Linked DNA regions of Homo sapiens. The protein of the gene in region 1 purifies or fractionates together with the protein of each later gene. This does not show direct contact. Each region holds a gene or a part of one and is shown on either strand. Other genes may lie near its edges.

Region 1 (7,293 bases):
GTCCTTCCCTTCTTTTTCTTTCCTACTGCCTAGAATTGAGATGTGATGGCTGGAGCATCAGAAGCCATTTTGGACCATGAGGCAACCTTGAGGGTAGAAACTACATGTAGGAATGGTGAAAGGACGTTGGCCCCTGATGGCTGTGTGTGTGTGTGTGTGTAAATCTGTATGCACACATGGCAGTACACAGTGTAGTGGGTAAGAGTATGGGCTCTGGGTTGGAATCCTGGCTTTGTCACTTAACAGGCTGTGTGACCTTTGACAAATTACTTAACCTCTCTGTGCCTGATTCCTCATTAGTCAAATGAGGATAAAAATAACAGCTACTTGGTTAGATTGTTCTCAGGATTAAAAGTATATGAGAAATACTTAGAACTAGGCACATAGCAAATGCTCAGTCTGCTGCGGCAGCTGTCGATGATATTATTGTGTGTGCACACAGAGAGAAAACAGGAAAAGGCTGATGGTGGACTGTTCCAGAGTTGGCCTTACAGAGAGAGCTGGGAGGGCACACCACTGCTAATTGCATTGATAAGAACTGGGACTTAGAAAACCTGCGACCCAGTAAGTGCCCACCCAGCTCCTCGATGGTGAGAAAGGAACAGTTAGGAGAAGAGGATGCTCCCTTCTCTGCCCTGGATGTAGAGAGAAGGTTGGCTCCAACTCACAGCATTAGGCCTGAACTCCTCCTTGTGGAAGAAGCCCCCAGTCATCATCTTCTTGCTGAAGGTCATCACGTCTGCTGGGTCATCCAGGCCCCAGTGCTCATGGGCCCAGAACTTGCCCGTGCAGCCTCCTCCGGTCTGGACCTCGTCCACCAAGAAGGCGCAGCCATGCTGGCCGGAGAAGAGAGAGGAGGGAGAAATAAACACCCGTGGGAGGCCAGAAATTCATGCCCTCCATAGCCAGCTAACTGCCAAACCCTGGGTCCACACACATCGTGCTTGTTTTCTGAAGAGCAAACCAGCCCCATGTTCTTGAGCTGTGCACAAAAAAAACTAATCAAAACACTTAAGCTGAGCAGTTCCAACCAGAGCTGAATCTGAGTGTTTCCTAAAACTGCTAAGCTGGACCAAAAAAACCCAGAACATTAAATACTCCCTGCACCAACACAGAGCGGTATGTCATCTGGCTTCAGTCTCGGGTCTCGACCTCGTCAGAGGGAGCTGTGTCCAACAGTGAGGCCTCGAATGTGCTTCTCAAACTTCAGCTGCCATGTTCTGCTTGTCACCAAGGCTATTTCTAACTCAGCATCTGTGTTAAGTCAACTCACGTCTTATAACTTTTATCTGTGAACTTATCGGTTTGATTGCCAGTTATATATGCACAAGACATTAAAACAAACACACAATATAAAGAAAGCAAATCAGTGTGTCAAAGAGATACCTGCACTCCCATGTTTATTGCAGCACTGTTCACAATAGCCGAGATACAGAATCAATCTGTCCATCGATGGATGAATGGATAAAGTAAATATGGTACATATACACACTCGGCAAGGCGCGGTGGCTCTCACCTGTAATTCCAGCACTTTGGGAGGCTGAGGCGGGCAAATCACCCAAGGCCAGGAGTCTGAGCCAATCAGCCTGGCCAACATGGCGAAACCCCGTCTCTACTGAAAATACAAAAATTAGCTGGGCATGGTGTCGTGCACCTGTAATCTCAGCTACTTGGGAGACTGAGGCAGGAGAATCACTTGGACCCAGGAGGCAGAGGTTACAGTGAGCCAAGATCGTGCCACTGCACTCCAGCCTGGGCAACAGAGTGAGACTGTCTCAAAAAAAAAGAAAAAGAAAATATGGTACATATACACAAAGAAATACTATTCAGCCATAAAAAGAATGAAATTATGTCATTAGCAATGACGTGGATGGAACTACAGGACATTATGTTAAGTGACATAAGCCACACATACACAAATATTGCATGTTCTCACTCAGGTGGGAACTAAAAACACTTCCCTTATGAAGAAATAGAGTCGAATGACGCCTATCAGAGGCTGGCAAGGCTAATGGGGAGGTGGAGATAAATAGGGGTTGGTTAATGGATACAAAAGTACAGTTAGATAGAAGAATAAGATCTAGTGTCCAGTAGCACAATAGGGTGATTTTAGTTAATAATTTATTGCATAGTTCAAAATAGGAGTGGATTTGGAATATTCCCAATACAAAGAGATGATAAATATTTTAGGTGATGGATATCCAATTACCCAGATTTGATCATTACGCACTGCAACTATTATGTATCCAAAAAGGTTTTTTAAAAAGATTTTAAGGCCAAGTGTGGTGGCTCAGGCCTGTAATCCCAGCACTTTGGGAGGCTGAGGTGTGCAGATCACCTGAGGTCAGGAGTTCAAGACCAGCCTGGCCAACATGGCGAAATCTCGTCTCTGTTAGAAATACAAAAATTAGTTGGGTATGGTGACGTGTGCCTGTAGTCCCAGCTACTCGGGAGGCTGAGGTAGGAGAATCACTTGAACCTGGGAGGTAGGGGTTGCAGTGAGCTGAGATTGCACCACTGCACTCCAGCCTGGGTAACAGAGTGAGACTCTGTCTCAAAAAAAAAAATATATATATATGTGTGTGTGTGTGTGTGTGTGTGTGTGTGTGTGTGTGTGTGTATAGTTTTAGGGAAGAATCCCCATTCTTTCACCAACCCCAACTTCTCCACCCCTGATGCTGACAGACAGCCTCTGCAAGTCTGGAGATTGACAGAAGCTCCAAGGCAGAGGTGCTGCTGGCCCGTTACTCGGGGAACTCAACCCAGAAAACCCAATGGCTCCATCCAACCTCGGCCCTGTCCACTGACCTTCCTGGCGATGTCTCTCAGCTTCCGAAAGAAGTCATCGGATGCGTGGTTGTCTCCACCCTCGGACTGGATGGGCTCCACGATGATCCCGGCCACCGTCTTCTTCTTTTTCCGATATTTCACAATCAGATCCTCCACCTGGATCCCAAAGGGGAAAGTGACCACCGATGGCAGAGGCTTGTGACCAGTATCCGTGGGTGGGAATCTGGGGTTCGATGAGCCCCATGCAATTTTATTGGAAATGTGTTTGTGTGCATTTCCTAAGACCAGTGAAGCCTCTGTTAGAAGCTATGTGTGTGGATGGGAATGTATCCTACTTGAAATCGGTGCTAGCACCTGGGTGGATACAAACTAATAAATTGGGGCAAGTAATTTAGCTTCAGAAGCCTCACTTTCCTGATGTGTTGTATGGGCACACTGACAGAATCCACCTTCCAGGGTCGTGGAGAGGACTGAATGAGAAAATATAGCACTATGAGTTGATTGCTGGGCCAGATGTTTTAGCTGTGGTTCTGCCTCTGTTTTACATGGAACATGCACCTGTCACTTAACCTTGTTATGTGGGAAATAGCTACATCACGGGTATATTGAGAGAAATAAAGGTGAGAGCATTCACACACACACACACACACACACACACACACACACACACACACACACACACAGAGACAGAGAGAAAATACAGCAGAGTCTGGCACACATAAAGTGGTGGCTGCTACTATTACGATTAGCACGACTATATTATTATTGATTATTATTGTTCCTATTCTTACAGTATTATTGCTATGATTGGTGTGAGAATCCTTTTGGGGCAGAATCGGAGATATATCCTCGGTTAAAAAACTGTTCTAAGGGCCAGGTGTGGTGGCTCACACCTGCAATCCCAGCACTTTGGGTGGCTGAGGCAGGAGGATACCTTGAGGCCAGGAGTTTGAGACCAGCCTGTGCAACATAGCGCGGTTCATGTCTGCAAAACATTTAGAAATTAGCTGGGCATGGTGGCTGCGTGCCTGTAGTCTCAGCTACTTGAGAGGCTGAGGTGGGAGGACCCCTTGAACCAGGACTGTGAGATCGCAGTGAGCTATGACCACACCACTGCACTCCAGCCTGTGCAACACAGCAAGATCCTGTCTTTGTTAAAAAGAAAGAGGCTGGGCATGGTGGCTCACACCTGTAATCCTAGCACTTTGGGAGGCTAAGGCGAGCAGATCACCTGAGGTCAGGAGTTCCAGACCAGCCTGGCTACCATGGTGAAACCCCATCTCTACTAAAAATACAAAAATTAGTTGGGCATGGTGGCTCACGCCTGTACTCCCAGCTACTCCAGTGGCTGAGGCACGAGAATCGCTTGAACCCAGGAGGTAGAAGTTGCAATGAGCCGAGATATCGTGCCACTGCACCCCAGCCTGGGCAAGAGAGTGAAACTCTGTCTCAAAAAAAAAAAAAAAAGAAAGAAAAACCCTAAACCGTACACCTAGATAGACTAACAAGTGAAAGCTTTCTTTATTATGTACAATTAAGAAAAAGCCTCTGTTTGGGTGATATGATTTTGACCTTGGTCTCCACCAGTCACCCCAAGGAAGCTCTGAGATACTTTTCTTGGTTTTCTTTTTTTTTTTTTTGAGATGGAGTTTTACTCTTGTTGCCCAGGCTGGAGTGCAATAGCGCAATCTCAGCTCACCGCAACCACCACCTCCCGGGTTCAAGTGATTCTCCTGCTTCGGCCTCTGGAGTAGCTGGGATTACAGGCATGCACCACCATGCCCGGCTAATTTTGTATTTTTAGTAGAGATGGGGTTTCTCCATGTTAGTCAGGCTGCTCTTGAACTCCTGACCTCAGGTGATCTGCCCGCCTCAACCTCCCAAAGTGTCGCAGTTACAGGCATGAGCCACCGCGCCCGGTTTTTCTTTGTTTTTAGAGCATTGTGCTGTAAGTGTAAAATACACACAGTGTTTCAAAAACTGAATACGAAGAAAAGGACTATCTTAGTTTGTTTAGACCTAAATAAATGAATTTTTAAAATAAAGGAATTTTTAAAAAGGAATATAAAAATCACATTGTTTAAAAATACTAATTACACATTTACGTGATAATATTTTGAATATATTCGGTTCAATAAAATGCTCTGAAAATGAATTTCACCTATTTCTTTGTAATTTTAAAAAACGTGACTCCTGGCCACGCACGGTGGCTCACACCTGTAATCCCAGCAATTTGGGAAGCCGAAGTGGGCAGACCACTTGGGCCCAGGAGTTTGAGACCAACCTGGGCAACACGGCAAAACCTGTTTCTGCAAAAAATACAAAAATTAGCCAGGTGTGGTGGTGTCATGTGCCTTAGTTCCAACTACTCAAGAAGCTGAGGTGGGAGGATCACCTGAGCCCAGAGAGGTCGAGACTGCAGTGAGCTGTGATTGCACCACTGCACTCCAGCCTGGGTGACAGAGTGAGACCCTGTCTCAAACAAAACAAAAGAAAAGAAGGCCGGCGCGGTGGCTCACACCTGTAATCCCAGCACTTTGGGAGGCCGAGGCGGGCGGATCACAAGGTCAGGAGATCGAGACCATCCTGGCTAACACGGTGAAACCCTGTCTCTATTAAAAATACAAAAAATTAGCCGGGTGTGGTGTCAAGCGCCTGTAGTCCCAGCTACTCAGGAAGCTGAGGCAGGAAAATGGCATGAACCCAGGAGGCGGAGCTTGCAGTGAGCTGAGATCGCGCCACTGCACTCCAGCCTGGGCAACAGAGCTAGACTCCATCTCAAAAACAAAGCAAAACAAAACAAAGCAAATGTGACTCCTTGGCAGTTTCCAGGCAGGGTGTAAAAATGAAAGAAAAGGTGACTACTGGAAAAGCTATAATTACATATGTGGCTTGCATTATATTTCTATTGGACAGTGCTGTACTTGATGCCATTATCTTGTCTTTTCTATTTACCACTGAATACCCAGCACCTAGCACCTTGCTTGACATCTAGTAGGTGCTCAATAAATATGAACTGATTGAAAATGATGATGTGCCTAAGAAAAAAACCAGCAGCCTTATTTGAGTTCAAATCTATACCCAAACAGTGATATTTTTTTCCAGCTGCAGATTACTTCCAATGTCTTCCCTGGAACCCCCATATACTGAGTGGATCTAAAGAGGGCTGTGTTAGATGACGTGGAAACGGGGGGTAGGGGGGTGCTGCCTGTCCTCAGCCTCTCCCATAGCATCCCCCGACCCACAGCAACTCAAAGCCCCAAGACTCAGGAGAAGACAAAACCAGTGGTTTAGAGGATCTTGTGGAACCATTTTTTCCTGTGGGATATCCCATATTCTTTCTTTCTCTCTCTCTCTTTTTTTTTTTTTTTTTTTTTTGGACAGAGTCTCACTCCGTTACCCAGGCTGGAGTGCAGTGGTGCAATCTTGGCTCATTGCAACCTCTGCCTCCCGGGTCCAAGGGATTCTTGTGCCTCAGCCTCCCTAGTAGCTGGGATTACAGGCATGTGCCACCACACCCAGCTAATTTTTAGTAGAGATGGGGTTTCACCATGTTGGCCAGGCTGGTCTCGAACTCCTGGCCTCAGGTGATCCTCCCGTCTCAGCCTCCCAAAGTGCTGGGATTACAGGCGGAGCCACCGTGCCCAGCCCCATATTCTTTCAACTGATCTGTTTTCTCTTATTTTAGAGTCATTGACTCTTGTCTTCCAAGAAACTTAAGTGATACAGAAATTGGTATCAGAGTTGGGTGATGGATGCTGTGACAGAAACAGTGTGTCTCACGAACTCTCCCAACATAGAACATTTGGGACGCAAGGCCTCTGTGTCCCTGCTTCCCTCTGGGGGAGCACTGCACAGATCCCCAGATAAACCCTTCATCTGTTTCTCTTCTCCCCAAGTCTTGGGGCGGCAAGAGCAACAGGACTGGTGGTTGGGGAGGATCCGCAGGGTATGAGCATTACCTCTTCCAGACAGCGGGCCTCCTCCTGTTGGTTCTCTTTCACAAACTCTTCCAGAGGGTATTTCAGCCGTGGGAACGGTGCGATGGGCCAGTCAAAGGAAGGGATGTCGATCTTGTGAATGGCTTTAGAGTGCGTGGTCGCTAAGCAACCTGAGTTCAGCAAAACAGAAAAGCAGACGCTTGGCTTGGGGAAGCAGGCAGTACCGTCTTTGTAAAGGAGATGATAGACATTTCAGCGCAAGGCTGTCAGTGGGCAGGGAGGCCTGTTGCCTGTGAAACCCCAGTTCTTTTTATCGTTTAATTTTTAATTTTTCTGGGTGCATAGGAGGTGTATATACTTGGGGAGTACATGAGATGTTTTGATACTGAACCCCAGTTCTCATCCGGAAGCTGAAGGGGGACTCTCGAACCCTTAATTGGCATGCGTGCGTGGGTATGTGTTTGCATTGCGATTAATCACAGATGCAGCGCAGGCTTTGAAGACAGAGTCAAGAGTTCCAGTCCCGGCTCTGTCACTGAATAGCCTTGGAAATTCTTCCTCT
Region 2 (7,293 bases), on another chromosome or scaffold:
GGCAAGTGGTATTCTGGGATTCCATTCTGGGGGTTAGACTCATATGCTAAAATCTCTACTTTGATTTCTCCAAAGGTGCTTACCTTGACAGGAAAGAAAAGAACACTTACATTATAATGTCAAACTGACTTCATATTTCAGATTTCAAAAGCATCAGAAAATTGAAAGGTCTACATATATATATATACATATATATATATTTTCTATAGATTAGAATGATTGTGAATTTTTTTACATTTCTGATTTTTCATTCACTTGTCTGGCTGTGTCTATACATTTTTGTTTTTCAGAATTCCTTAACTTTGGAGGCAGTGAAACGACTAATAGCAGAAGGTAATAAAGAAGAACTACGAAAATGTTTTGGGGCCCGAATGGAGTTTGGGACAGCTGGCCTCCGAGCTGCTATGGGACCTGGAATTTCTCGTATGAATGACTTGACCATCATCCAGACTACACAGGTACCATGTTTTTTATAATTCTTAGTAACTCAATGTATCCCCTAGCTCATTTTCTATTTGGCAGACCTAATTTATTCTAATTATAGACATGTCTTACCAGCTTGGCTAGACACAGGAAGTCACCACCATTTACTCCATAAAGTAAGGCTTGCACAATAGGTCGAAGTAGCACTTATTCAGGACTCATATAGCCATCCATCCATTCATTCATTCATTTAACACACTTATTGAGTACATACCATGTGCCAGCACTGGGGATATAAGAATGACTCGAACAAACAGATTCTCTCATGGAGCTTTCATTCCAGTATAAATGCACCAACTAAGCTGACAACTTTTAAGGTCCTGTAATTTTTGCCATGATTACATAGCAAGTGCTAAAAAGCTTTTCTAACTGCCGGAGTTACCAAGAGCCTGTTCTCCTTTGTTTTATAGTATGGATTGAGTCTGTCTTAATTTGTGAATATTTTTGTCAGAATCTAGACCCAGCTTTTAGGAAGGAGATAATTTGACAAAACAGAAGTGCTTCTACTGGGTATTGGCAGTACTGTTTATGAGGGAAATGAAATAGAACAGATTATTCACATCAGTATTTCTTCACCTTAGACCTGTTGATGATGAATGTCACTTTAATTGTGGGAAAAGAAAGGCTAGAAAAAATTGCCTAATAGTGATTACATGTGCCTCACGTATACATCCCAGTGTAAAAGGCAGAGCTGGGCATGTTGTAACAAAACTCCAACAAGGAAAGCTTATCTAAGGGTATAGAATTACCACAGGGGCCAGGCGCGATGGCTCACACCTGTAATCCCAGCACTTTGGGAGGCTGAGCCAGGCAGATCACTTGAGCCTAGGAGTTCATGACCAGCCTGAGCAACATGGTGAAACCCTGTCTCTACCAAAAATACAAAAATTAGCCAGGCGTGGTGGTGTGCACCTGTAATTCCAGCTTCTTGGGAGGCTGAGACAGAAGGATTGTTTGAACCCGGAAGGCAAGGTCGTAGTGAGCCGACATTGTGCCACTGGACTCCAGCCTGGGCAACAGAGCAAGACTCTGTCTCAAAAAAAAAAAAAAAAAAAAAGAATTGCCATGGGAACTCCTGGTCACAAATTGTTATTAAGCAATAGGGCTCCCTGAGATGCTGGAGGAAAGACTTAGAATGGGGTAAGTATGGGAATCCTGTTTGGTTCATGGATAACATAGGAACTGTGCTGCTGAATAAGGTTGCCTTCTGTACCAGTTACTAGGGCTATGTAACAAATCATTGAAAACATAATGGTTTAAAACAACAACCACATTTATTTTGCTCACAAATCTGCAATTTTGGTAGAACTCAGTGGGGACAGCTTGTCTCTGCTCCACTCAGCACCATCTGGGCCAGTTTGGAGGTTGGAATCATTTGAAGGCACCTTCATTCACACGTCTGAAATTATTACTGGCTATTGGCTGGGATCTTAGCTGGGGTTGGAACCCCTTCATGTGGCCTGGACTTCCTTATAACATGGTGGTTGGCTTTCAGTGAAGTATCCAGAGAGGGAGAGAGAGAGAATGTGCCAATTGGAAGCTGTGCTGACTTTTATGACGTAGCTTTGAAAGTCACACAGTGTCACTTCTACCGTATTCGGTTTGTTAAAAGTGAGTCAATAAGGCTGTCTCATATTCAAGGAGAGGGCACATAGATACCCACTTCTCATTAAAGGAGCATTGATGTCACATTGTAAGAGGAACATGTGAGATGGCTTATATTACTGGGGCCATCTTTGGACAATCCAGTTGGTTACACCTGCCATTGGGCCTAATTGTTAGGGGTTTCTAAGGGATTCTAGATTAACCTAGAGCTTTTTCCCCTGTATTTTTCTATATCTAGTTTCTGAGAATAATGAAATGTATTCCCATTAAGGACTATCTTACCCATTTTTATCCTAGAATTCATCTCCTCTGGGGGTAAACCCTGTGGTAAACATAGATGATCAATATTCTAAAGGTCATGTAATTCAACCAGACACCCCTTGGGATAATTTTCTCCATGACCCCACCACTCTGAAGTGCTCATTCAGCCTATTCTTGGATACTTGTAATAGGAGACAGAGATGTGAAGAGTTAAGAAAGTTTTATCTGAGCAGCAAGTATATCTTTAAAATCTTAGGAGTGGATTCAAAATTAGAGGCAAGAGGATTCCCAGAACAAACAACCCAGGTTTCTACCCAGTCTTGGGTAGTGTTCCCTGGCAGAATGCTGATATGCAAATATATTTGTCACTTTTCACTGATCAGACTTTCATGGTGGCATAGGTGCCCTTCCTGCTGGTCTCTGGGTGTGGAGCCTCATTCTGAGGTACCCCAAAGTTTGCCTGGTTCATTTAAGAAGCAGATGTATGTGATTCAAAAATATGTCAAAGGAAACAGGACAGAGACTGGAGGAAACTTTTGTATTGTTTGCCTCATTGATAGAGGTTATAATTTCCTCCTGCCAATTAATTTATGCTTTATTTATGTTCTATTTTGGGTTCTGTGTTCATAGATTATTTAATTTAGCCATAGCATACCAGTGATGGGAAACTCACTGTCCTCTGAAAGAGGCCATTCTATCTTTGGACCATTCTCATTAAAAGATGGTTTCATTATTTTAAGCCAAAATCTGCCTTTCTGTAGACTTTACATATTGGTCTTAGTTCTACTTTTTGAAGGTCATACACATAAACTTGCTTCTTATGTTTTATAATAACATTTTATTTCTGAAAACCTCCCTCTTCCCCCACTGAGTCTTTCATCTAGAATAAGAATTCCCTTTTCCCTTGGCCATTCTTTCAGGTCCTCATCCTCAGCAGGCCTCCGAGATTTTTAGAGAATCTGGAGATGTGAATGCTTTTTTGCCCCATGGAGCATTGGGGCCACAGCTCAAGGGTTGAGCAGGAAGAGGGGTACTGTCACTGTTGTAAGTCTTGAAGTATCAGGCATCTGGGTACCTTCTGGGGAACCCACAAAACCAATACACATGGCCTTATTTCCTTGTATCACTCAGCCTCAGAAGATAATCCCAGTGCAATGTATTTGTCAAGGAAAAGCTAAAGGCATTCTAAATTAGCTTGGCTCTCGCAACAAGACTGTGATGTATCCCCTCCTACCCAAAATAAAAATTATGGCTTGGACATGGTGGCTCATGCCTGTAATCCGAGCACTTTAGGAGGCCAAGGCAGGAGGATTGCTTGAGCCCACAAGATTGAAACCAGCCTGGGCAATATGGCAAGATCCCATCTCTACAAAAATTGTTTTTTAAAAATTAGCCAGACATGGTAGCATGTGCCTGTAGTCCCAGCACCTCAGGAGGCTGAGGTGAGAGGATTACTTGAGCCTGAGAGATTGAGGCTGCAGTGAACCATGATCGTGTCACTGCACTCCAGCATGGGAGAGAGTGAGACCCCATCTCAAAAGAAAAAGAGTTATGTATATTTTAATAAGACTTCCTTTAGCAAAAGTGAAATAAATAATATAAAATGAATCATTATTTTTGCCCAATCAACCAGAGTTCTCTTTGTTTTATATGGCTTTGAAGGAAAATAACAACAAAAATAATGCGTAAAACAGCAAACACTTAATATAGTACTTAGTTGGTGTTGAATTCTCAGCACTTTGCATGTTTTCATTCATTTACTCCTTATGAGGTAGGTATTATTGTTATTCCTGTTTTACAGAAGAGGAAACTAAGGCACCAAGAAATTAAGGAACTTGTCATTTGCTTGTAGGTGGCAGCGTGGAGTACAAATTCTCAGATTGTGCTTCTAGAGTATGTGCTTTTAAGCCCTACACTGAACTACCTCTCACCAGCCCTGGATACAAATCCAGGCTCTGCTACTCGAATATCTGAAACTGTCACTGTGCCTCTCTGAGGCTTATTTTACCCATCTATAAAATGGGTTTTCTGGTCAGGTGCAGTGGCCCACACCTGTAATCCCAGCATTTTGGGAGGTCAAGACAGGAGGATTATTTGACAGTAGTTCAAGACCAACCTGGGCAACATTGCAAGACCCTGTCTCTACAAAAAATTTTTAAAAATTAGTTGGGCCTGGTAGCATGCACCTGTGGTCCTAGCTTCTCAGGAGGCTGAGGTAGGGGGGGATTGCTTAAACCCAGGAATTCAAGGTTGCAGTGAACTATGATTGTGCCATTGCAACTCCAGCCTAGGCAACAGAGCAAGACCCTGTCTCTGGAAAAAAAAAAAAATTTCCTAACAAAGTTGATCTGAGGTTAGAGATAACAGCTACTAAGTGATCAATGACTAACACAGTGCCCAATACAAAAACATAGATAATAAACAAAGCTGTTATTTTATTATTGTTCAGTTTGCTTCCTTACTGAGATGAATTTTTCCCTCTCTCCCATAGTGTTCTATGAAATTTGAGAAAACTTAATTTTTGGCTAATTTTTCTATATGGTATATATAAAAATATGTTAAAACATACTTTTTAAATCTATGGTGTATTTGTAGGGATTTTGCAGATACCTGGAAAAACAATTCAGTGACTTAAAGCAGAAAGGCATCGTGATCAGTTTTGACGCCCGAGCTCATCCATCCAGTGGGGGTAGCAGCAGAAGGTATTTAAACATTTTTACAAAATGATGTTTTTATAATTTATTTTGCAGTTTTATTTTAATCACCATCTCAATAACTTGACTTTAATATATTCATTAGCCTCATTGCTTAACTGTAAAAACAATGGGTAAATTCTCTTGGCAACTTTTAAAGATTCTGGTTTTACATTAGGTTAAGGAAATAAAATTATTTAGACAATTTAGAATGTAATACCTAGCTAAAAGAAAGAAATTTCTTAAACTGGCAATATTATTTTTCCCTCTCATTTGCCTTTTTATACATAATTTTTACCCTGCTATTCATAAACCTCATGACCCCCTTCCCTCTCTTGAACGCCCACGTCAAGCTGCATTTCTGAAACATTCTCAAACCAATGGGACTCTCTTATGTAGCTGAAGGCATATGATGCTGATGGTGACAATGATAATAGTAATAGCAGCAATCATTTGAGTGCTGATTATGAACCAGACACTTATGTATTTACTCATTCTATCCTCACAGCAACGTGTAAGGTATGTACTTTTATCTCTTTACCCTGAGATTATAATGTGAAAGGAGGAGTCGCAATTTAAGCCTAAGGACACTAGTACCAGGGGTCAGCAAACTTTTTCTCTAAAGGGCAAATAGTGGATATCATACACATTGCATATCACATGATTCCCATCACCACTACTCACCTCTCCCATGAAGCAGAGAAACATCCATCGACAATGCATAAACACAGGAGCATGGCAGTGTTCCAGTAAAACTTTACTTACAAAATGGGCTGTAGTTACCAACCCCTGCCCGTAACCATGTTACATAACCCTCTTTTTTACTTGAACACTTCCTCTGTTATGATGAATTTTTAATCATTCTAGAGTATCAGTATTAGTAGTAGCTTAGAATTACACATATTGAATATTAATGAAAAGTCTTATTAGCTTTACAGAGCTGGATGAGTTTATAGAGTCCTATCTTTGCCCATCAGGAGCTTCCAATCTAAGACAGAAGCACTCGTGGGGACAAACGTGTGGCCGTGAGGAAGGGTGCATAGCCGGGGAAAATCACCCGGTGGCATCAGCCCCAGGTTCAACTCAGGAGGGCATAAGATTTTTAGTCTTTAGCTTTGCAGCTCAAAAATGTGCTTTTTGTCAATAAAGCAAGAGAAAAGTTATAGCTCTGGGGGATAGATGCACATGAACTACATTCACAAGAGAATGATGTGGTATAAACCAGCATATCAGCTTGTCATTTACAGTTAGTGGATGTACAATCAGAACTAAATCGTGACCGTGTTCCTCTGCCGCCCCAGGGCAAGTCAGATCCTTTGCTCAGAGCATGCAAAGTGCACGTATGTGGCTAAGTCTGTCTGCTGAGCTGCGTAAATTTCTTCATTTTGGGCTGACTGCCCTGCTTCTGGTTGATACAACCTTCAGAGATATGTTAACATTATCAATTAAGGTACAGATTTTTTTGCCCTGGCCTTGGAGCCGTATCATTTCCTTAAAGTGAGTGATGTTACTGATTTAAGCTTATGGTTCAAGTCTCAGAGTTTGATGGGATGGGATGGAGTGGAACTCAAGGCTACTCTCTATCACCTGTAACGCGTGAGACATTTAGAGATCATAATGTAAGTGTTTAACCAACACATGGTAAAATATTCATGATGAGTGAATGGAATCTTCGTAAGGAGTTGGAAACTATTGCAGTTTCTGAATTTCGCCCGAGGAGATGTTTATCCTTTAATCTTCCAATTTTAAATATCTGGTGGGGAACGTAAGCAGTAACTGTTAAGTATATGCAGAGAACGCATTGCATTTTTTTGTGCACATTTGTAACAGAGAGAGAGAGTGGCGATCTGCTCTTTGTGCCCCAGCCAGCCTTCAGAATAGTGTCGGCGAAGCTAGTGCCCAAGAAGTATTTGGGGAGAGTAAGAATGATCTGATTGTTTAACTCACAGGGGTGGTATAATGTTGTTCATTCTAAGTAAATCGCTCATTTATTTGTGGTAACGTATTTTACACCAGCTTGAAGGAAGATTTGATGCCATTTTCTGCGTCTTACCCTAAGCAAGTTTCTGTGGAAGTTGAGAAAAATGTCAAAGAATTAAGTTTTCTTTCAAAGGCTGATTGGAACCAAGATGTATATATGTGTATGGGTGTGTGTGTGTGTGTGTGTATACACACATGCGTACTCCAGGATGTCTTTATATTTCAAATAAAGCAATCTCTAATCAAATTCCAGTCTGTGTGGTGTACGCTG

The links.
Region 2: the proteins of ABAT (region 1) and PGM2 fractionate together in Homo sapiens (co-fractionation; 2 studies listed by BioGRID). This does not show direct contact.

Annotation. Positions count from the first base shown.
Region 1 is NC_000016.10:8,768,433-8,775,725, reverse strand, and holds part of ABAT (4-aminobutyrate aminotransferase, mitochondrial isoform 1 precursor), read right to left. Parts: intron 6,902-7,293; coding exon 6,753-6,901; intron 2,947-6,752; coding exon 2,809-2,946; intron 837-2,808; coding exon 669-836; intron 1-668. UniProt on the Homo sapiens protein: Catalyzes the conversion of gamma-aminobutyrate and L-beta-aminoisobutyrate to succinate semialdehyde and methylmalonate semialdehyde, respectively. Can also convert delta-aminovalerate and beta-alanine.
Region 2 is NC_000004.12:37,829,674-37,836,966, forward strand, and holds part of PGM2 (phosphopentomutase), read left to right. Parts: intron 1-290; coding exon 291-458; intron 459-4,944; coding exon 4,945-5,051; intron 5,052-7,293. UniProt on the Homo sapiens protein: Catalyzes the conversion of the nucleoside breakdown products ribose-1-phosphate and deoxyribose-1-phosphate to the corresponding 5-phosphopentoses.